3 linked regions of the Homo sapiens genome follow. The protein of the gene in region 3 interacts with the protein of the main gene of each other region in a pairwise test. Each region holds a gene or a part of one and is shown on either strand. Other genes may lie near its edges. The genes, in order: AKAP8L, UBXN11 and WDR25.

Evidence for each region.
Region 1: the proteins of WDR25 (region 3) and AKAP8L interact in binary tests that used the Homo sapiens proteins (3 or more experiments, as listed by UniProt).
Region 2: the proteins of WDR25 (region 3) and UBXN11 interact in binary tests that used the Homo sapiens proteins (3 or more experiments, as listed by UniProt).

What each region holds. Positions count from the first base shown.
Region 1 is NC_000019.10:15,401,904-15,409,010, forward strand, and holds part of AKAP8L (A-kinase anchor protein 8-like), read right to left. Parts: intron 2,140-7,107; coding exon 2,107-2,139; intron 1,813-2,106; coding exon 1,572-1,812; intron 1-1,571. UniProt on the Homo sapiens protein: Could play a role in constitutive transport element (CTE)-mediated gene expression by association with DHX9. Increases CTE-dependent nuclear unspliced mRNA export.
Region 2 is NC_000001.11:26,289,553-26,296,659, reverse strand, and holds part of UBXN11 (UBX domain-containing protein 11), read left to right. Parts: intron 1-2,328; coding exon 2,329-2,455; intron 2,456-7,107. UniProt on the Homo sapiens protein: May be involved in the reorganization of actin cytoskeleton mediated by RND1, RND2 and RND3. Promotes RHOA activation mediated by GNA12 and GNA13.
Region 3 is NC_000014.9:100,463,425-100,470,531, reverse strand, and holds part of WDR25 (WD repeat-containing protein 25), read right to left. Parts: intron 2,512-7,107; coding exon 2,364-2,511; intron 1-2,363.

The sequences.
Region 1 (7,107 bases), on a different chromosome or scaffold from region 3:
CCCTTTGGGAACATGTACACCATCTGTGGGAGCTGCAACGCCCAAGGCTGCTCCTCACAGGGCAAGGCTGAGCACCCCAGCACCCTGCAGGATGCAGGCAGGTCCAGCACAATGAATGCGCAGCCAGTGAGGCTGATGATACCCATGGGAAACACTGTTCTTGTCCCTCATGGCTGGGGAACCTTCAAACTCTGCAAAGTCCCTCATTACCAAAACAACTGAGACAAAAGGGGGAGTATTTCCCAGGGAAGACACTGAGAGCTTGCCCAGGGACAAGAAAAAGAGCTGTATTACATCAACCCTGGAGCCCAGAGCCAGACACCAAACTCTATATACCCTGTATTGCAACTGGGAAGGCAGGCCAGACCTCCTCCCAGGACACAGAGGGCACCGCAGAGAGCTCTTTTAACCGTGACTGCAGCCCGCAGCCCACACCCCTACAGGCCTGGACCCCACACACCTCACAGGCACAGGGGCTCCCCTTGCACACTCTTCCCTAAACCTGGGCCACCAAGAGGCACCGGCAGCTCTAAGAGCAGCAGTTGGTGCTGCCGCTGCTCTGCTTACCCCGATCCCAGGCTCCAGGCTGTGGTAAGAAGGTGCATAGCAGCAACGCAAGGCCAAGCCTCACATGCCAAGCCCTCAGCTCTGAGTGCTGCAGCTGTTGGGCCAGGAGTTACAGAGCCCATGGCATCAAATCCCCTTGTGCCTGTTCCACACCCTGCCACCACAGCCCTGGGGCCTCCCTTGGCCCTATCAGTGCTCAGCCAGGCAACTCCTTACTCTTGGCTCTCACTCATCTGTTAGCTGGTGCTCCACTCTATCCCATGTTAGAGATACACCCACGCTCCTCACCAAAGCCTCGCACTGGGCATAAGCACTCCTGGGCCAAGTCCAGTTCAGTTAATAACAAATGCCCACAGCATGATGCTTTGGAGTAGGGCAGATCTGGTAGGCGAGGCCCAGCCCCACCAAGTACTTGCTGCGTGCCTTCAGGGTATGACCTGCCTGCACTTCTGTATCCCCACCTGCAAAATGAGGACAGCAGCAGTTCCTCACAGGAGTGCTTCCATCAGGTACATGTTTGTAAGGCACAGGAGAGTAACCAGGAAATGCCCACACCTGCCCCGACCCTTACGTGGGGGTGGCCCAGCTCGCAGTGATCAGCCCCAAACGCTCGTCCCACCCTTCACACCAAACTCCATCTGTCCTGCCCTGACACCACGCAGGAGGCAAAGTCTCGAGAGAATTCCAAATGGCTGTCCTTGGAGGGAGGGGTGGCTGAACACTCTGTTTTTGAGGGCACAGTGAAGTCTGCCCAGTCTGGGCTTGTTCCTCTCACCGCAAGCTGGGAAAGGCTGACCACCAGGCAGTGCGGCAGGGGTTGAGGGTGGGTGAGAGGAGACACAAGTCAGAGACGGGAAGTGCAACGGACCCTGCTGGGAGCCACAGCAGCACCAAGCAGCGGGGAGGAAGCAGACACAGAGGGGCACTCAGAGAGGAAAACGCAGTGGGCAGCAGGCAGGAGCCGCCCCTGCAGAGTCTCAACCCCTAGGCAGGTGTCCACTCACCTTTCTCCACCTGAGCCGTACACGCCTCCTTGCATCATGTCTGTCTCCAAATGCGGCACCATATCTAAGCGCTGGTTAATTCTGGATAAAACGGAATCGGCACTGGCGCTACCCGAGGCACTAGTGTTTGCATTTGTGTCAGAGCTAGGCATTTCCCAAGAGTGTGAAGTGGCCATACCATACCCATAGTTGGTGGTGTTATCCTGGCCATAGCCATAGCCATAGCCATAGCCCTCGTAGCCTGCAGTGAGGGAGACAGAGACAGACAGATGGTGGGGGCAGGCAGAGGGGAGGCAGACAGAGACAGAGACAAACACAGATACAAGGGTATCTTCTGTCACAGAGAGAGAAGACCCTAGCCACTGAAGCTAGATGGGCCCTGGTCATTCTGATGAGGGCCTCCTGTTAAGGAGTAGGTAACCCCAGAAACATGCCCCCTCCCCACTCCCAACCTTGGCCAAGCAGGGCAGTGGCAGAGAAACACAGCCAGGACAACCCCAAGGGACAGGACAGCAATCACAGGAATGACACTTGCCTCTATTTGTCCCAGAGTTCCAAGTTCCATATCCTACAAAAAGTAAAAGGGCAGTTACATCTATACTTGCTTACAATACAAGGCCATAATTCAGGCGCAGACAATTATTCCCAGGACCTGACTGGTCAGAGCAGGCTGCACCTCCCCTAACCGAGAAGCCTTGAGCTCGCGAGCACTGCGCAAATGACCCAGGCCACTTGCTGCCCTGGTGCCTGGCTGCCTGTGGCTCTGAGCATCTGTTATTTAAGGATCCTTCTGTTCCCAACACTCTCAACTAAGGAACTTGGCTCCTATACTCCTCCCTTTAAGAGCCAGAATTAGAAGGTGACCTCCACACCCCAAGCTAAGTGCTAATCAGTTTATAGCAGAAAACCCAACCCCAGTCTCCCAAGAGTCTGCCTTAAAAGGGAGGGCCAACAAGCCCTTGAATTGTTGACTGTGCTGTGCTGGAACACATCAGTGAGAGAAGCCCAAGAAGCAACCCCTCGCTTGAGAAAAGCTGTGGAGAGAACAATCTGGATTATCAACTTAATATGCTCTGGATTCAATCACAACACATGATAAAACCTCATTCCTTCAGTAACATAAAGCCACTGAGAAGTGACAAAGTGTAAAGTCCCCTGGGAACTCTGAGTCAAACACACAGTTCCTCCCCAAAGGAGGGCACAGAGCAGGTGACCCCTTTCCCTGGGTCTCTGGTGAGACCCAACAGTTGTTTCCCATTCCATGTCATCTCTGCCCCGCAGAGGACATGCTCATCCCAGGGCAGGGGACCGAAGCTCAGTGAGACAGACAGCAGGGCAATAAGTGGCAGAAGCCAGACCACAGCAGGAAGAGTGTAAGTCAACTGAAAAGATGAGCCAGAGAGAACAGGCAGGCTGTCGTCCTGCACTTGGGTTCCTCCACGACCCAGTGCACAAAAAGAATGGGAAGAAATCAGAGAGAAGCTGAGGAACTGCTGATGACCACTATGTTTAACAAGAGAGCTCACAAAACAAAAACTCTTGGGCTGGAGAAACCAAAACAGGCTTCTCATCCATTTGTTTATGTATCCCCTGAGCACAGGGAACAGAGGCTTGCAGTCCCAGGCACTGCTCAGGCATGGAGATCTGCCTGTTGGTAAGAGAGATGCTAACAGCCAGAGAGCAGCATGGGTAAGTCAGGAGTGGTAGCTGAGGAAAGAATGGAGCCATTCTAAGAGGCAAGAGAGGCTGGCAGAGCCACATAAAGAAAAACACACAAGGCTGGGTGCAGTGGCTCACGCCTGTAATCCCAGCACTTCGGGAGGTCGAGGCGGGCGGATCACCTGAGGTCAGGAGTTTGAAACCAGCCTGGCCAACATGGTGAAACCCCTTCTCTACCAAAAATACAAAATTAGCCAGGCGTGGTGGTGCACACCTGTAGTCCCAGCTACTCAGGAGGCTGAGGCACAGTTGCTTGAACCCAGGCGGCAGAGTTTGCAGTGAGGTGAGATCGCGCCACTGCACTCCAGCCTGGGCGACACGGTGAAACTCCATTTCAAAAAAAAAAAAATAGAACAACACACAGGTAGCCCAGGCAGCTACTGTACACCTGGCCAAGTGACTGTTTGTACCAGGGACAGTGGGCACTAGCTATTCTAAAGAAAATAGGAGTTGGGCGTGGTGGCTCATGCCTGTAATCCCAGAACTTTGGGAGGCCAAGGTGGGTGGATTACGAGGTCAGGAGTTCGAGACCAGCCTGGCCAATATGGTGAAACCTCATCTCTACTAAAAATACAAAAATTAGCCAGGTGTGGTGGTGCGCGTCTATGGTCTCAGATGCTTGGGAGGCTGAGGCAGGAGAATCACTTGAACCTGGGAGGTGGAGGTTGCAGCGAGCCAAGATTGCACCACTGCACTACAGGCTAGGCGACCGAGCGAGACTCTGTCTCAAAAAAAAAAAGAAAGAAAAGAAAAAGAAAATAGGATATGGAGGCAAAAGCAGATCCATCAGGGCTCTGCTTGGGAGGCTACAATGTGGTCACTGCAAGCTTCACCTGCTGAGGATCTGCCACAACAGAGTGAGGAGGCACAACGAAAGGAAGCAGCATCAACTCCGTGAACACCACTTTACGTTTTAAGGACAAGCAGGGCCTCCCACGATGGGCAACTCTCAGGAGTCCCTCCAGGCAAACACTCACTACATGCCACTTGCTATGCCTGGAGCAACCCAGACTCCTTGATGGACATCCCAGCTGGGTCCCTTCAGGAGGAAGCCTTCATCTAGACTGGCGTTTAGGGACTCCCCAAGACCTGCCCTTTCTGAAAGAACACCCCAACTCATTTCCATCCCCAGAAGGGATGAGATCATGGTTGACAAAAGAAATTTTAAGGAGAGAGAGAGAGAGAGAGAGAGAGAGAGAGAGAGAGAGAGATCCTTAAAATTTATATATTTATTATTATTAAATATATACATATATATGTAAAAATAAGATATATGTACATATATATTTTTGAGATAGAGTCTTGCTCTGTCCTCCAGGCTGGAGTGTAATGGTGTGATCACAGCTCACTGCATCCTCGACTTCTTGGGTTCAAGTGACTCTTCTGCCTCAGCCTCCGGAGTGGCTGGGACAACAGGCATGTGCCACCATGCCCAGCTAATTTTTTCTATTTTTGTAGAGATAGGGTTTTACTATGTTGCCCAGGCTGGTCTCAAACTCCTGGGGGCTCAAGCCTCCCATCTCAGCCTCTCAGAGTGCTGAGATTATAGGCATGAGCCACTGCACCTGGCCCCAAGGACATAATTTTTAAAAGAAAAAAGGACATGGTCACAGTATGTGATATTTATGGACCAAAAATAGAAAACAATTTAACACTCAACTTTAACGTAATAGTTAATCAGATTACACCTACCTACTCGGTGACATATCATGTAAGCATATAAAAAGAATTTACTATGCCTTATGTGGCACAAGGAAATGCTTCTAACATAAAATAAAGCAGGACCAGCCAGGCGCAGTGGCTCACACCTGTAATCCTTTTGGGAAGTGGGGCAGGCAGATCGCTTGAGCCCAGGAGTTTGAGACCAGCCTGGGCAACATAGCAAAACCCCATCTCTAGAAAAAATACAAAAAATAGCTGGGCATGGTAGGGCATGCCTGTAGTCCCAATTATGCAGGAGGCTGAGGTGGGAGGGCTATCTGTGCCCAGGAGGTGGAGGTTGCAGTGAGCTGAAATTGTGCCACTGTGCTCCAGCCTGGGGGACAGAGTGAGATCATATCTTAAAAAAATAAAATAAAATAAGAGCAGTACCCACAATTCTATCCACCTATAAATTATTAAACTACACAAAATCAGTAAGCTGATAAAAATTAAACATTAATATGGTAGGATCTTGGTTGACTGTTTTTCAAAATGTTATTTAAATGTTATATTGTTCTTGCAATTCAAGCCAGAAGGAAAAATAAATCCATCTCTATTCTTTCACAATTGTGTATGTAAAAAAATCTCAAACAAATCTACAAAAGAGCTACTAGAATAAGTGAGCTTAGCAAGGTTTATTACAAGGTCAATCTGTAAGTCAAATTTCAAATATTACAAGGTAAACCTACAAATCAAATAGCAATCAAATTTCTATATATCAGCAATGAATGGAAAGTTTTTAAAAGTACCATTTCCTATAGCACTAAAAGCATGAAAAACTTGGCGTAAATCTAACAAAGTATGTGTAGGATCTGTGTTGAAAACTACAAAACACTACATCAGTGAAGTGACATACTGCACTCATGAATCAGAAGACTTGATATTGTTAAGATGTCAATTTTCTCAAACTAATCTATAGATTCTACAGATTTGATAGATCTATAGATCCAAGGCTCTCTCACTCAAAATCTCAGCATGAATTTTTTAAAAAACTTCATAAACTGATTCTAAAATTTATATGCAAAAGCAAAGAAACTAACAATTTTGGAAAAAAGAACAAACCTGGAGGACTCATATTTCAAGATTACTATTAACCAGTAATCAAGACTGCATTGCTGGGCGAGGCGCAGTGGCTAATGCCTGTAATTCCAACACTTTGGGAGGCCGAGGCAGGTGGATCATGTGAGGTCGGGAGTTTGAGACCAGCCTGGCCAACATGGTGAAACCAGTCTCTACTAAAAATACAAAAAGACCGTGCTGCTGAACGAAATTTAGATGTACAGACCAATGGAACAGAATGAGAGTCCAAGAGTCCAGAAATAGACCCACAGTATATGGTCAACTGATTTTCAGTAAAGGTACGAAGGCAATTCAATAGAGAAAATATAGGCCTGGCACAGTGGCTCACACCTGTAATCCTAGCACTTTGGGAGGCCAAGGCGGGTGGATCACCTGAGATGGGGAATTCAAGACCAGCCTGGCCAATGTGGTGAAACCGTCTCTACTAATAATACAAAAATTAGCCAGGCGTGGTGGCACATGCCTGTAATACCAGCTATTTGGGAGGCCAAGGCACAAGAATAGCTTGAATCTGGGAGGTGGAGGTTGTGGTGAGCTGAGATCGCGCCATTGCACTCCAGCCTGGGCAACAAGAGCGAAACTCCATCTCAAAAAAAAAAAAAAAAGAAAGAAAGAAAGAAAGAAAGAGGCCGGGCGCGGTGGCTCACGCCTGTAATCCCAACACTTTGGGAGGCCGAGGCGGGAGGATCACGAGGTCAGGAGCTCGAGAACATCCTGGCAAATACGGTGAAACCCCGTCTCTACTGAAAATACAAAAAGATTAGCCAGGCGTGGTGGCGGGCAACTGCTCGGGAGGCTGAAGCGGGAGAATGGCATGAACCCAGGAGGCGGAGCTTGCAGTGAGCTGAGATCGCGCCACTGCACTCCAGCCTGGGGGACAGAGTGAGACTCTGTCTCAAAAAAAAAAAAAAAGAAAGAAAAAATGGTTTTGTTTTTGTTTTTGTTTTTTAAACAAATGGTGCTGGAACAATTATATATTTATATGCCATAGAAGAATAAGAAACCTTAACCTATACTGCACACCTTGTAGAAAAAT
Region 2 (7,107 bases), on a different chromosome or scaffold from region 3:
CACTGAACTGAATTCTACAGTCCTCGCTGTGGCCCCTGCGGGCTGGCCCCTGCATGCCTCTTCATCTTAGCTTGAACCACTCTCCCCTCCAGCCATGAGGCCCTTCCTCTGGGTCTTTGACCTCATGGAGCTGCTTCCCACCTCAGGGCCTTGGGCCGTGCTGTTGCTGTTCCCTCTGCTGAAATGTTTCCCCACCTCCCCCAGGTCAGTTCCACTGTCCTCAGTCATATCCCCCGGGCCTCCTAGGCAGGTTTTCCATCCCGAGCTTTCTCAGTGCCTCATCTCTCTTCCCTTGTGGGACTCTGAACTCCACGACGGAGGGAGCAGTTTCCTCCTGTATGTCACTGTGCACCCAGGACCTAGCACTGAATTGGTTAAGCAATTTGCTGCCTCTGGCTGTGACTTCTGCTCACTGGGGACTCAGTGACCCCAGTCACCTTTCTTTCCCCCGCTCACAGACCCATTCAAACAGCAAGGGAACTAGAGGGACACCAGGCACAGAGAAGGGTCCCAGGCACGCATGGGCCCTGCCAGAAGTTCTTCCTGGGATTCAGCCTCTCTCCCTCTCCACGCAGAATTGGTTTCCAAAGTCCCAATCTAATTTAAAACCTTGGCAGCAAACCTCCAATTGCAGCTGAGAGCCCTTCCCACTCCAAGCTGTTCATACCTGGGGTTGTCCCCGAGCAGTGGCCACAGGCGGTGAGGGCTGCACCAGAGCCTCGGGGCAGGGGCATGACTGCCCTTGCATGCGTCTCCGCCACACAGTTATCACTTCATTCATTTAACAGCCTCATCTGGAGGATCTGCTTGGGGCAGGCCTGGGGCAGAGCATGACCAAGACAGACATAGTCCCCCGCCTGCATGAGGCTGCCAGTCTGTGGGGAGGGGAACAAACGAGTACACAGGTACACAAGTACAGAGAGTGCTGTGACTTGATGAAATGGGTGACACCACAGAGGCAAGTTGGGGGACCACCTGCGGGGGTGACATTGGGCATGATGTCTGGTGAGTGAGGAGGGGAATGGGGTGAGAGGATCCAGGCCTTAGACAGGGAAGGTGCCACTTCCCGCCACATAACTTGGCTTGCGGTCGGTGGCTGTGTGGAGGAAGGAGAAGAACGGGAAAAGAGAAGAGGTCGTGGGGGCCTTATCACATTGGAGCCGCCCGTGGTTCTGGCTGGATCCTGTCCCGAAAAAATGGGAAGCCATTGGAAGGCTTCTGTTTGAGAGGTGGCATGACAAAAAGACCACCCTGCTTTGTGGGGTTGGGTGGTGTGGGTGAGGAGAGGACGGGGGAAGCAGGCGCCGCCCCTGGATTGTCCAGGAGAAAGATGACGGTGGCTTGAACTAGGGTGGTGGCAGCAGATGGAGCCCAGTGGATGGGTTCCAGGCTGCATTGGAGGGGGCACCACAGGCCTTGTGGGTCATCCTGGAGGAATGGGCGACAGAGGATTCTCAGGTGGAGGGGGTGCCATTTCTGGAGACAGGAAAACCTGGCACGGGGGAGGTTTGACAGGGGGACAAGAGCCACAGCCATTAGACATCCAAGTGTGGACGGTTGGAAATGTGAGTCTGGAGCTCGGGTGAAATCTGCATAAATACAAACTTGGGTTCTGTCGTATATATTTGGGAGAGCGTGTGGATGGAGCTGGGCCCCCATGAGTTGGTGTTGGATAGGAAGGGGAAACGGTGAAGGAAATTGGAAAGGAACAGCCCAGGAGATGGGAGGAAAACTAGCAGATGGTGAAAGATAGACAGAAATGTGCCCATGCGCTTGGCAGCGGGTAGGTTGGTGGTTGCAGCACCTTGAGCAGTTTCAGAGAGGTATGGCGATGGAGCCAGGTTAGAGTGGCTTGAGAAAAGAAGTCGGGGTGTGGACATGTAGACAGTCCAGAAGTTTCCTGTGGCAGAGGGGACATGCGGCCAAGCCCTAGGGAGGCTGGCACATGGTTCACATCCCTCAGCCCTGCCTCCTTCTCACACTTGGGCCAGGCCACGTGATTTCTGCAGCCAAGGAGGCTGACCTTACCGAGCCCTCGCATGGGCTGGGCGCTGACCTGAGTGATCTTACTGAGCCCTCCTCACAAGCTTATGTGGCAGGAACTGTCACTCCATTTTATTAGAGGAGTCGTCTGAGGCTCTAGGGACTGAGGTGGCTTTCCAAGGTCACAGCCAGGAAATGGCAAGATCCCCCTACTCATCCCTTTGTCTGGTCAGCTCTGGGGGCCCCATTGCCTGCAGACTGAGGCTGGGCTTTGGGCTGACACTGCCTTTCCCTGGGAAGGGGCTGAGCTGACGGTGCCCCGCATCTCCCCCTTCTTTCCCACAGCGGTTCCTCAGTGACTATGGCCTGCAGTGGGTGGGCGAGCCCATGGACCAGGAGGACTCAGAGAGCAAGACAGTCTCAGAGCATGGCGAGAGGGACTGGATGACAGCCAAGAAGTTCTGGAAGCCAGGTAGAGCAGGGCGTCTGCCCCAGGCCCTCTTCAAAAGGAATTCTCCAACAGTTTGCTGTTGGCCGGCAGCTCCCCAGAGGCCTATCTCATTCGTGCCCGGGTCCCTGACCCAAGACGCCCTGAGAGCCCACAACTTGCCCCTGAGACAATGTGGGAGCAGCCTTGGCCTCCATCACTGACCACTTAACCTGCTGGCCCACTTCTCCACGGTCCTACCTCTGCTCTCTCTTGCTCATCTGTCAGAGACCCAGAGATACAAGAGGTAGCAAGGCCTTATTTGCCTCAGGTCACATAGTCTACAAAACGCCACCAATCTGGAAGATGTTGCCGTTTTAAAAAAAGGCAATCCTTCTGTTCTAGAAGCTGCTGCCAAATTCCCAGGTTTGGCCTCCCTCTCCAGGTTTGCTTATGGCCCTTGGAATCCACCTGGTTCTGTGGGCCCCTACCATGTCTTTTTTTTTTTTTTTTTTTTTTTTTTTTGAGACGGAGTCTTGCTCTGTCACCCAGGCTGGAGTGCAGTGGCACGATTTGGCTCATTGCAACCTCTGCCTCCCAGGTTCAAGCAATTCTCCTGCCTCAGCCTCCTGAGTAGCTAGGATTACAAGTGTGTGCCAACACACCCAGCTAATTTTTGTATTTTTAGTAAAGACGGGGTTTTACCATGTTGGCCAGGCTGGTCTTGAACTCCTGACCTCGTGATCTGCCCACCTTGGCCTCCCAAAGTGCTGGGATTACAGGTGTGAGCCACCACGCCTGGCCTACCATGTCTTATTTTTAACTTCTAATATCTAGAGGGATTCCTCCCACAGTCCCCTCCTATAGACCCACAGATTTGGGTCCATAAAACTGGCCATTTCTGAAAACCAGGCCCATTCTCTTCAAAGAATGGAGATTGTCACCCAAAAGATGCTTCTCCAGGCTCTAGAGTCAGGCACACCTGGGCCCTCAACTCGACTCTACCTCCTATCCCAAGTGTGACTTGGGCAGATGACCTCTATTCACTTCATCAACAAAACAGGAGTGTTCTTCCCTGGGAGTTACAAGGAGCAAATGAGTTAAACGCAGAGCGCCTAGCTCTGGCCTTGCAGCCATTGTTGTTTCCAAAGTCTGAGGGCAGGGGTCCCACGGGAATAGGAGCACAGCTTCCAAGGGGCCCATTTGGAAGATGACGACACCTTCTTGGTTTCCTGCTAGGTAAAAACCCAGATTCCAAACATGAGAATCCTGCCTCCTGTTTAGGCCTGGGCTCTGGCTGGATCCCCCCAGATCTCAGGGTCTAACGCCCTCACTGCTTGTTCTCAAAACATCACTTCCCATTTTTGTGCCATTTGCAGCTTTCTTTTTTTTTTTGAGATGGAGTCTTGCTCTTGTTGCCCAGGCTAGAGTGCAATGGCACAATCTCGGCTCACTGCAACCTCTGCCTCCTGGGTTCAAGCGATTCTCCTGCCTCAGCCTCCTGAGTAGCTGGGATTACAGGCGCCCACCACCATGCCCGGCTGATTTTTGTATTTTTAGTAGAGACAGCGTTTCGCCATGTTGGTCAGGCTGGTCTCAAACTCCTAACCTCGTGATCTTCCCGCCTCGGCATCCCAAAGTGCTGGGATTACAGGTGTGAGCCACCGCGCCCAGCCATTTGCAGCTTTCAAAGCATTTTCTTTTTTCTTTTCTTTATTTTTCTTTTTATTTTTTGAGGCAGGGTCTCACTTTTGCCTGGGCTGAGTGCAGTGGCACAGTCATGGCTCACTGCAGCCTCAACCTCCTGGGCTGAAGTGATCCTCCCACCTCAGCTGTCTGAGTAGCTGGGACTGCAGGCACGTGCCACCACACCCAGCTGATTTTCTTTATTTTTTGTAGAGACGAGGTCTCGCTACGTTGCCAAGGCTGGTCTTGAACTCCTGGATGCCAGTGATCCTGCTGCCTCAGCCTCCCAAAGTGCTGGGATTACAGTTGTGAGCCACTGTGCCCTGCCAGCATCTTCATAGCCTTGACAGGGGCCAGGAGTTACTCCATTTCACAGATGGGTAAAGGGAGGCACTTAAGGAGTCTGTGGACTCATTATTGAGGGAAGAGGGGCAAGACTTAAGGCTGACAGCCCACTGTAAGGCAGTTGGTCACTGAGGCAGAAGATGAGATGATGCCCAGCTTGAGGGTGGGGATGGTGAGAAGGGATGGGCAGAGAGATTTAAGTAGAATCCGTGGCCTTGGTGTCTTTACATGAGGGAGAGGACCAGAGGAGTCAGGGATAACCCGAGGGAGCACAGCTGCGGGAAAGATGCTGAGTACACTTGGGACACAGCAAAGCTGGGGGCTGTGCAGTCCCTATGATGCTAGGAAGGGGAGCGTGTCCCTGCTGCCCAGGGCACTGTAGGCCCAGGCATGCCAACTCCAAAGCTCTAACTGAACCCAGGGTGGGTGTCGTGGGGAGAGTTCTCAAGGGACCCCTGGCATGAGTGAGAGGTGAGGCCCTATTGGGTGGCTGCAGGTGCTCTGAGAATGTCTATCCTGGATCTAGGCCAGAGGCCCACAAGTGCCGCACCCTGGGCCCTGCTGTGGCGGGCTGGGCTCAGGCTTCAGGTAGGCCTGCCATCTTGTTGCAGGGCAGCCTTCCTCCTGGCCAGGGGGGACCTCCTTGCTCCTTGCCAGGTGGCTGGTTTCTGGACCTGGCTCTGTGGATTCCTACTCTGCCCTGTTTGGTTGTTTGTGCTCTGAGTGCCTCAAGTCAAAGTAACTTGTGAAAAACCCTGCCCTCCATCTTGGAGGCCCTGGCCATATCTGTGGTCCCTCCGTGCGTTCTCTTCCTTCTTTTGTTCTTTGATTTTTTCAGCATGGGCGGGGGGCCTTGATTCGGCTCTTTCTGCCAGATGAATGACGTTTTTCGTCGCTAGCAGCTTCTGTTCCTGGGACATCTCTCCGGCGTCCCCGTTCCTCTCTCCCCAGGTGCCACCCTGCTCCGCCCAGGGGCCTCAGGCTCACAGCCTGGCCCCCGCTGGCCTGCCTGACACTCGGCTGATTGCTCTGCTCTCCCTCTGTTGGAGAGGCTCCCACAGGCGCTGGGGTGGAGGCCTGTGGAGGGTGAGCCAGGGCCGTCTGTGCCGAGCCAGTGGGGTGATCAAACTTCCTGGAGCCTGGGACTCCTAGGGAGGAGGGCCGGTGGGGCCATGAAGGGGCTTGGCCTCAGGCTGGATCGCTCACTCTCCCCCTCTCTCTGCCAGCGTCACAGAGCATGCTGTGCCAGGTGCTTCAGGGTCTGTGGAGACATGAAAGGGACAGTCCTGCTCTGGTCACACGCCACTGGGGCCAGGTGTTGGGCCTCGGGGCTGAGAGCTCTGGTCAGCTCTGAAGTTCTCCCTTCCCCCCCACCCTCTGCATCTCTGAGCTCCTCACTCCTCACTACTTCCCTGTTCCCCTGAGAATCCTCACCCTCTCATCCCCCTCTGAAATCCCCACTTCCCCTACCCAAGTCAGTCCCTGCCTCCCTCCATGGCTCCACCTCTCCCTGCCAGCACCCCACACGCCTCCCTCCTTCCTCTCAAGCCCCACACTCCTGAGTCTGGGTTGGAGGCCCCCTGACTCCGCAGCCTGCGTGACTTGCCCCTGGGCTTGCCCTTCAATCCCAGAGCCACCTGGCTTGACCCCTCCCCACCTGCACTTCTGCCTCCAGCCTTTGCTCCTGCTCTGTCCCCACAGAGCGCCTTGCCCGCTTCCCTCCCCTCTGAAGCTCAGGGCAAATCCAACCTCCGCCAGCAAACTCTGACTGCCCTGTGTGGGCTGTGCTGCTCTGTGGGGAGGGCTCTGCTTGAGGGAAGGGGCTAAAAGCTCTGGCTGAGGCAGGGTTCAGGTCGGGTCAGACCCCAGATCAGCAGATCGCTGACCCCCTCTGAGTTCATTTCCTCCTCAGTCGTGCTGACGGGCTCCTAGGGCCACTGAATGGATGTGGTAATAAACTGTGACAGCCACTGTCACCTAGCTGTTGTCATGCATGTCCCAGTGCTTGGCACATGGGCAAGGGTGTGTGTAGCTGCATGTGATTGGCTGTGATGCCCGTGTGCCCAGGCTTGGATGATCAGAGCACATTGGAACAGTCATCTGCACATGATGAGGTGGGGACAGGGTGGTGCGTAGCTCAATGGCAGGGGCCAGAGAGAGCTGCAGGTGGGACCCGGCAGGCCTGAGTTCAGATCCTGCCAGTCCACAGGCTGGTTGAGTGTTCTGGCGGGGACCAGACCTGCAGGGCCTCCTTTCCTGCACTGGCTCCTCTGAAGAGCAGAGTGACTGCAGTAAAGTCCCCAGAGCGGGGCCTGGCTTGCAGGTGTGTGGTAATAGTGGTTCCACTTCCTGTTGCAGCCGTCTTTGCCTGAGGGTCAAGGGCAGGCACATGGAGGGCGGCACCGCGTGAGCTGCCGGGGTGCCCTGGGCACTTGTGCAGTGAGGGGCTGCCACCTCTCCACTGAGCATGGTAGGGTCTGGCCCTCTTCTGGGCTCCACAGCCCCCACAGTGATACTTACACATGCCATTGTCGCCATTTGCCGCCCCGTCTTCTTCACTTGAGTCTGAGCCTGAGGATGGCAGGACCCTGGGCGTGGGCATCGCCATGATGGGCAGGGCCTAGCAGAGCACGGGTGCTCAGACATTTCTGGAAAGCAGGATCCAA
Region 3 (7,107 bases):
AGAACCCCCTGTCAAGACACCCCACTCACACCCACCCACACATACAATTGCATGCATTTGTTTAACTTCTGTTGATTGAGAGAATAATGCTTAAGGGCCACTATGAACCCATCAATGCCATCAAATGAATTTGATTTGAGTAATCCGACGGTGTGTGTGAGTGAGCTTGTCACTCTGTGAGCGGTGTGCTACCCACATGTGCTCACCTGACCCACAGGCTGGGGTTTCCCCTCCTGCACTCCTCAGACTCATCTGCCCCAGCCCCTGCACCCCATATTACATCCTGCTTTGGTTTCCATGCATACTACATGGAACCCTGTTCCTGTGTCAGCTCTGTCCTTGTTCCATCTGCAAGAACCTACTTTCCTCCTCATCAACCATACCTCCTCCATCCTAATTCTCTGTCCACCTAATCTGTGGCTCAGCTCAGGTTTCACTTCCTCCAGGAAGTCTTCCTTGATTTTCCAATCTAGATGTTCTTGCAATTCCTGTGTCTTTCTCCATCACTGCAATTTGGGATTGACTCTGCACTTCTGTCTTCTCCAGCAGACAGGAGCTTCTCCAGGGTAGGCACTGGGTCTTGTTCAGCTCTGTCTCGCCTATCAAGCATATCTTATGGGACATGCAGACAACAGAGTGTAACAGTCAGGCAGCAGGCTTTGGGGCCTAGCAGACCTGCGTGCATCCTGGCTCTGTCACTTGCTGGTTTGTGCCCCTGGCCAGTGTGTGTACAGCTGATTCTGATGGCGCCTGTCTCAAAGGGTGAGTGGGGCCTAAATAAGATGCTGTATAGAGGCTGTGGAAGAATGCCCAGCACACAGTGCTCAGTAGTAAGTGCTGCCATCATCAGCCCAGTCATCACCATCATCAAGTGGCATCAAACTCCCTGAGTCTGGCCACTCTGCAAGGGGTTAAGAGAATCAGTAAGACCAGGGAAGTGCTTTGTGAGAAGAAACTGCCACACACGGCACGGTGGGAAGGGCACAGAATCTGTAGTTGTACAGACATGGCTTCAAATCCCTGCTGGCTATGCACCACTGGGAGGCACTGAGCAAGCTGCTTTGCCCCTCTGAGCCTCAGTTTCCTCTCCTTTAAAATGGAAATAATCACTGCTGGCAGCTGCAGTGAGGATTAGACATGCTGTGTGCAAAGCCTATAGCACGTGGCAGGGGCCCTGTGACCATTAGTACTGTCCCCTCCCCTACTGAGCATGCAAGGAGCTGCAAGGCCGCCCACACTCAAGGTGGAAACAAACCACCTTCTCCATTTTCCCTCTGCGTCTCCTGGGGGCTGCTGGGCATGAGTGGCAGGGGTTGGACCAGCAAGTTATCATCTCCTTCTTGCCAGACCCTAGGAGAGGCAGGGCCCAGAGCCACCACCACTGCGGGGCTAGGCAGGCAAGATGCTGGCCTGAGGGTTCAAGGGGAGCCCCAGGGACTGGTGTGAAGTCTGGCCTCTCCCTGGGCTCCTGGCAGTGGAGCCCAGCAGAAATGAGACCGAGGAGCTCTGGGGAGGAGGTAGTGTGGTGCTGAAAGAAGCTGGATCCTGCTCATGGAGGGGGATAAAACATTTTTAAAAAGGAAAGAAAGAAAAGAAAGAGAACATAGAGGGAAAGGAAAGGAAAGAAAAGGGGAGGGGAGGGGAAAGGAGAAAGAGAGGAAGGAGCTCGGACTGGGAGGCAGATGGCAGAGGTGCGAATCCCAGCTCTGTCACTCCCTGGCAGTCCTCACTGTAAACCCCGGAGAGAGCCCACCTGGGGGCTGTGGCTGCGGTGGGTATTGACAGTGCCTGTTGCACAGGAGCGCTGAGTAAGGAAAGTTCCTTCCACTGACTTCTCTCTCCTTCTCGCCCTGCTTGTCAAGAGCCCTCTCAGGATTTACCCGGCACGAATCCATCCTACCCAAGTGCCTTTTCAGTGTGGGCATTAAAGCAGAACTCGTTTGAAGACTTTCCTTATGAGCTGGAATCATTTCTCACAGACTTTCAACGATAATGAATTGACAGGAATTCTAACCTGATTCCAACCAAAGGACACAATGATAAAGTTAAATCTATTTCAGCACAAATTGCATGTCAGAAGTAGATTAAAAAGCCACCTCTTTATCCAGCCCCATGGCTTGAGGCTGAGACAACCTTGGGGCTCTGTCCTCTGTGTTGGCTGGCAGAGGCCCATCCTCTGTGGGGAGTCGCAGTTCCAATGGGCAAGCAGTCTGGAAGCCCTCTCACCGAGCACGAGCCCACCCTGAGGCCCCTCTCCCTCTGCCACGCAAGCGTATACAGCTTGTGGCTGCGTGCCCACCAGAGAACCTTCCCCAGGGAGAGAGCTGCCAGCTCACCTCAGGGAGGTGACACAAGAAACGCACCTGTTTCAAGGTCTGTTAGGTGCAGCGCGAAGTCAAAGCCACCACTGAGGATGCGCCGGCCACAGGGAGCCCACCGGGCGGCCCGCACTGCCTCTGTGTGCAGGGAGTAGGTCTGCAGGCAGTGCCCGGAGTCCACGGCGTTCCATACCTGCAGGCAAACACAGACAGCACCAGGTGTCACAACAAGGGCCTGATCTCCAGGGCTCAGCTCGACCCCACTGTAGAAAGAAAAAGGTCTCGGTGGAATTAGATTCTCATTATTTTACCATCAAATCTATATCTAGATGTTAAACTTTTCATTGCAGAAATGTAAAGGCTTGGGATTGGTAAGTTGGGAGGATCATTTCCCCAAATTTTTTCTGGGGTTAAGAAAACTGCATTCTGGACGGGTATGGCAGCTCACATCTGTAGTCCCAGCACTTTGGGAGGCCAAGGTGGGCAGACTATTTGAGCTCAGGAGTTCAAGACCAGCCCAGGCAACATGGTGAAACCTTTTCTCTACATAAAATTAGTTGGGCATAGTGACACATGCCTCTAGTCCCAACTACTCAGGAGGCTGAGGCAGGAGAATTGTTTGAGCCCAGGAGGCAGAGGTTGCAGTGAATCACGATTGCACCACTGCCCTCCAACCTGGGTGACACAGCGAGACTGTCTCAAAATAAAAGAAAAAAGAAAACGCATTCCTGTGTCTGCCGGTCACCTACCCAGCCCTTCACACCTGTTTCATCCCTGCAGCCGGGTGGGAGTCCTGCACCCTCAGCATTCACAACCCTATCCCAGGCTCACCTGCGTCCCTGGCATCTTATCCCAGGCTCGCCTGCATCCCTGGCATCTTATCCCAGGCTCGCCTGCATCCCTGGCATCTTATCCCAGGCTCGCCTGCATCCCTGGCATCTGTCCTGCCATGGACACTGCCCAAGTCCAGGCTATTTTCATGGGTTCTGCTGTAAGACAGAGATCCAAAAAGGAATGTGCTACACTCGTATTTACAACCAGTCAAAGTACAAATATCTGCCGTAGGGGCAGCTGTCCTTTTGTTGGAGGAGAGAAGGTGCTTTCCCTCCTTCCCATGCTGGCCTTTCATGAGGGTATGAGGCTCATGAGAGAAAACCCTGTTACACTCAATGACTTCTGAAAAATGATCTAAGATATCAAGTATAAAACTGCACATTCCCAGAGCCAGGGCCACACCACGTGAGAGCCCCTGAGCTTAGCTTTCCACCAGCTCTCCCAGCAAATGCCGCCAAACACACCGTGCAGCCCAGGGGAACTGCCGGAGAGTTTGGAATATGTCAGGGTAGGCCCAGGGCCTGACACACAGAGGTACTCAGCAGTGCTAGTCCCCTACCTTCTTGTCACTGCAGGATGAGGGCAGTGCTCTCACCTACCACCCAGGTGGCTCAGAGGCTGAACCCGAGAAGCAGAGGAGCACTTGCAGCCAGCGTGTGGGAGTCAGAACGGAGTGCCTCCCACCTGATACGGCTGCTGGCAGGCCTCGGGCCTTGGCTGAGTGGCTTTGCCTCTCTGGGCCTCAGTCCTCTCCTCCCTGAAGTGGGAATAAGAAGAGCGCCACCCCGAGGGCAGTGGTGAAGGCTGAGGAGGTAATGGCTGCACAGCACATGGCATAATGGCTGGCACACAACTGGATGTGGATTCCAGACCTGTTCCATTAGGAAAACCAAGCTTCATTTTCTTTAATAAGAGAAAAACCCAAACAAAGTACACCCATGCACTTCTACCAACCTGATCCCAGGGATAACCTTCTCATTAAAGACAAGAAAATTCAACCTGCCAAGTCCCGAATGTTCTCAGAATGCAAAGGATCAGAGCTCTGAAACCTTGTTTCCTGGGATTATGTAAATGTCTACACTTAAGAAAACAAAAGGTCAAGAGTAGCCTTCAAAAAATGTGAAGAGAGCTCAGTTCCTTTCTTCCTCACTAAGGGTCAATAGCTGGGGTCTCAAACTGAAAAAATCAAGAAACAGCAGTATTTACATTTAGAAACACGACACAGCCAGAAGACACAGCCAGAAGACTTCAAAGTGGAATAAGAATTCACGGGAGGGAGATGGGGCACAGGGAACTGCTGTTTTCCAAAAATATGTATGAATATGAGTTTAATTTTATTTAAATAGTAAAATAAACGAGATCTACAGGGCTTACATGGTTAAATGGTAAAAAAGTTAATATTAAGTACATAAGTCAAGCTGCATATACGAAGTACAATGCCATTTAAGTTTTTACATGAAACACCACCTTGTACCCATTAGGATGGCTGCTATCAAAAAACAGAAAATAACAAGCATTGACAAGGATGTGGAAAAACTGGAACCCTTGTCCACTGCTGGTGGGCATGTCAAATGGTGCAGCCACTGTGAAAAACAGCATGATGGTTCCTCAAAAAATTAAATGTAGAATTATGACATGATCCAGCCATTCCACTTCTGGGTAAATGCCCAAAAAGCTGAAACCAGGGTCTCAAAAAGATACTGTACATCCATGTTCATAGCAGCATTATTAATAATAGCCAAAAGAGGGGAGTAATCCAAGTGTCTATGGATGGATGAATGAATTGTAAAAATGTGTTCTATCCATACAGTGGAATAGTATTCAGCCTTAGAATGGAAAGAAATCTTGGCACTTGCTACAACATGGATGAAACTTGAAGATATTATGCTAAGTAAAATAAGCCAGACACATAAGGACAAATACTATATAACTGCACTTATATGAGGTACCCAGAGTAGTCAAAATCATAGAGATAGATAGAAAGTAGAATGGTGGTGGCCAGGGCTGGGGGAGGGGGAATGGGGAGTTGTTTAATGGGGACAGAGTTTCAGTTTTCCAAGATAAAGAGTTCTGCAGACAGATGGGGTGCAGACTGCACAACACTGTGAATGTGCTTAATGCCACTGACCTGTATGCTTAATAGCGGTGAAGATGGTCAATTTTATGCTGTGTATTATTCTGCCACAGTTTTTAAAAATACACACACACACACAAAGAAAAAAAAAAGCAGATCTCATTTATACGTGAATTTGTAGCCAGGCTATAAAAACATGCATGAGGAGGGCCATCACTCCTAGGAAGGGAGGGAAAGGGGCAGGGCTAGAGGGAAAAGCTATGAACACTAAGCAGCAGCTCTTCCAAAGAGAGGGTGGAACATGTAGGGGAGAGTAGATAAGGCAGGGGAGATGAGATGGGGTAGGGGAGAGGAGATGGAGTAGGGGACTTGAGATGGGGTAGAGGAGAGCAGATCGGGTAGAGGAGATGAAATGAGGTAAAGGAGATGAGATGGGGTAGGGGAGAGTAGATGGGGTAGGAAAGAGTAGATGGCATAGGGGAGAGCAGATGGGGTAAAAGAAGATGAGATGAGATGAGATGAGATGAGATGAGATGAGATGAGATGAGATGAGATGAGATGAGATGAGATGGAGTAGGGGAGATGAGATGGGGTAGGGGAGGATGAGATGGGGAGGGGAGATGAGGTAGGGGAGATGAGATGGGGTGGGGGAGATGAAATGCACTGGGTTGATGCGATGGGGTGTGGGAGATGAGGAGAGGGAGAGATGGAAAATGCTCTCCGAAGAAAACATGCCCAAATGTTTCCTCTGAAACTCATTCATTTATTCATTCATTCAACAAAGATTTCCTGAGGACCTGCTATTAGCCAGGCATTGTGTAACAGGAAACAAATAAGACAAAAATCTCTGCCTTCAAAGAGTTTATATTCTAGTGAGGGAGACAGACACTGAACAAATAAAAATCCACAGTCCTTAAGGCAGTGGTGAAGACTGAAGTATTAAAAAGTAACCAGGAAAGGGCTCTATAAGGTCAAGGGAAGGGGCTGAAATGGTGGCCAGGGAGGACCTCTCTGAGGAGGTGACTTTGGAGGAAGTCCTGAAGGGGTGAGAAAGCCAGCTATGTAGAAATTGAGGGAAGAAGCTTCCAGGCAGTGACAGGAGTATGCCTGGCATGGTCAAGCAACAGCAAGAAGGGCCACTGCAGCTAGAGAAGTGAGCAAGGCTGGGGGTTGGCAGGGAGGTGGTAAGAAAGGGATGAAGTCGGAAAACCACAAGCCGTTGGGGCATCCCAGGGTTCTGCAGGTGGAACGGAGGGGAATGAGGGCTGGTTCCACTGCAGTAGGACCACTCCAGCTGCCATGCAGGGAGGAGAATGAAGGGCAAGAGAGATGAAGGAAGACAATCAGGAGGCTTCTGCAAGAATCCAGGGAGAGAGGAAATGGCTTGGAACAGTGGGAGGCAGTAGAGAAGTGGCCTGCCTTGGAGGGTAGAACCAACAGGACTTCCCTGGACTGGAGGTAGGATATGAGGGCAAGGGAAAAGCCCAGGACACATTCGCAGTTCCTGGCCCAAGCACTGAAAGGGGTGGAGTTGCAGGGATGGGTCAGCCTGCAGAAGGGGTAAGTTTGAGGGAAGGAGGACCTGGAGCTCAGTTTTGAATGACAGACAGCAGACAGTATAAAGACTCATTCCCGTACCAGTGTGATGTTCAAAAGAGAGGCCCAGGGTAGAGGCTGAGCTGTGGATGCCATTGTGGAAATTGTGCCGCAGCCTTGAGCTGGATGAGCTCTCCTAGGGAGCAAGTGCAGACAGGACAGAGAGGAGTCCCACATCTCAGCCCCAGGCCTCCAAGTTTCACAGGCTGGGAACCAGGGGAGGAGAGAGAGAAACCAGAAAGGAGTCTAAGAAGAGGCCAGTGAAGTGTGGGAAAAAAACAGAAG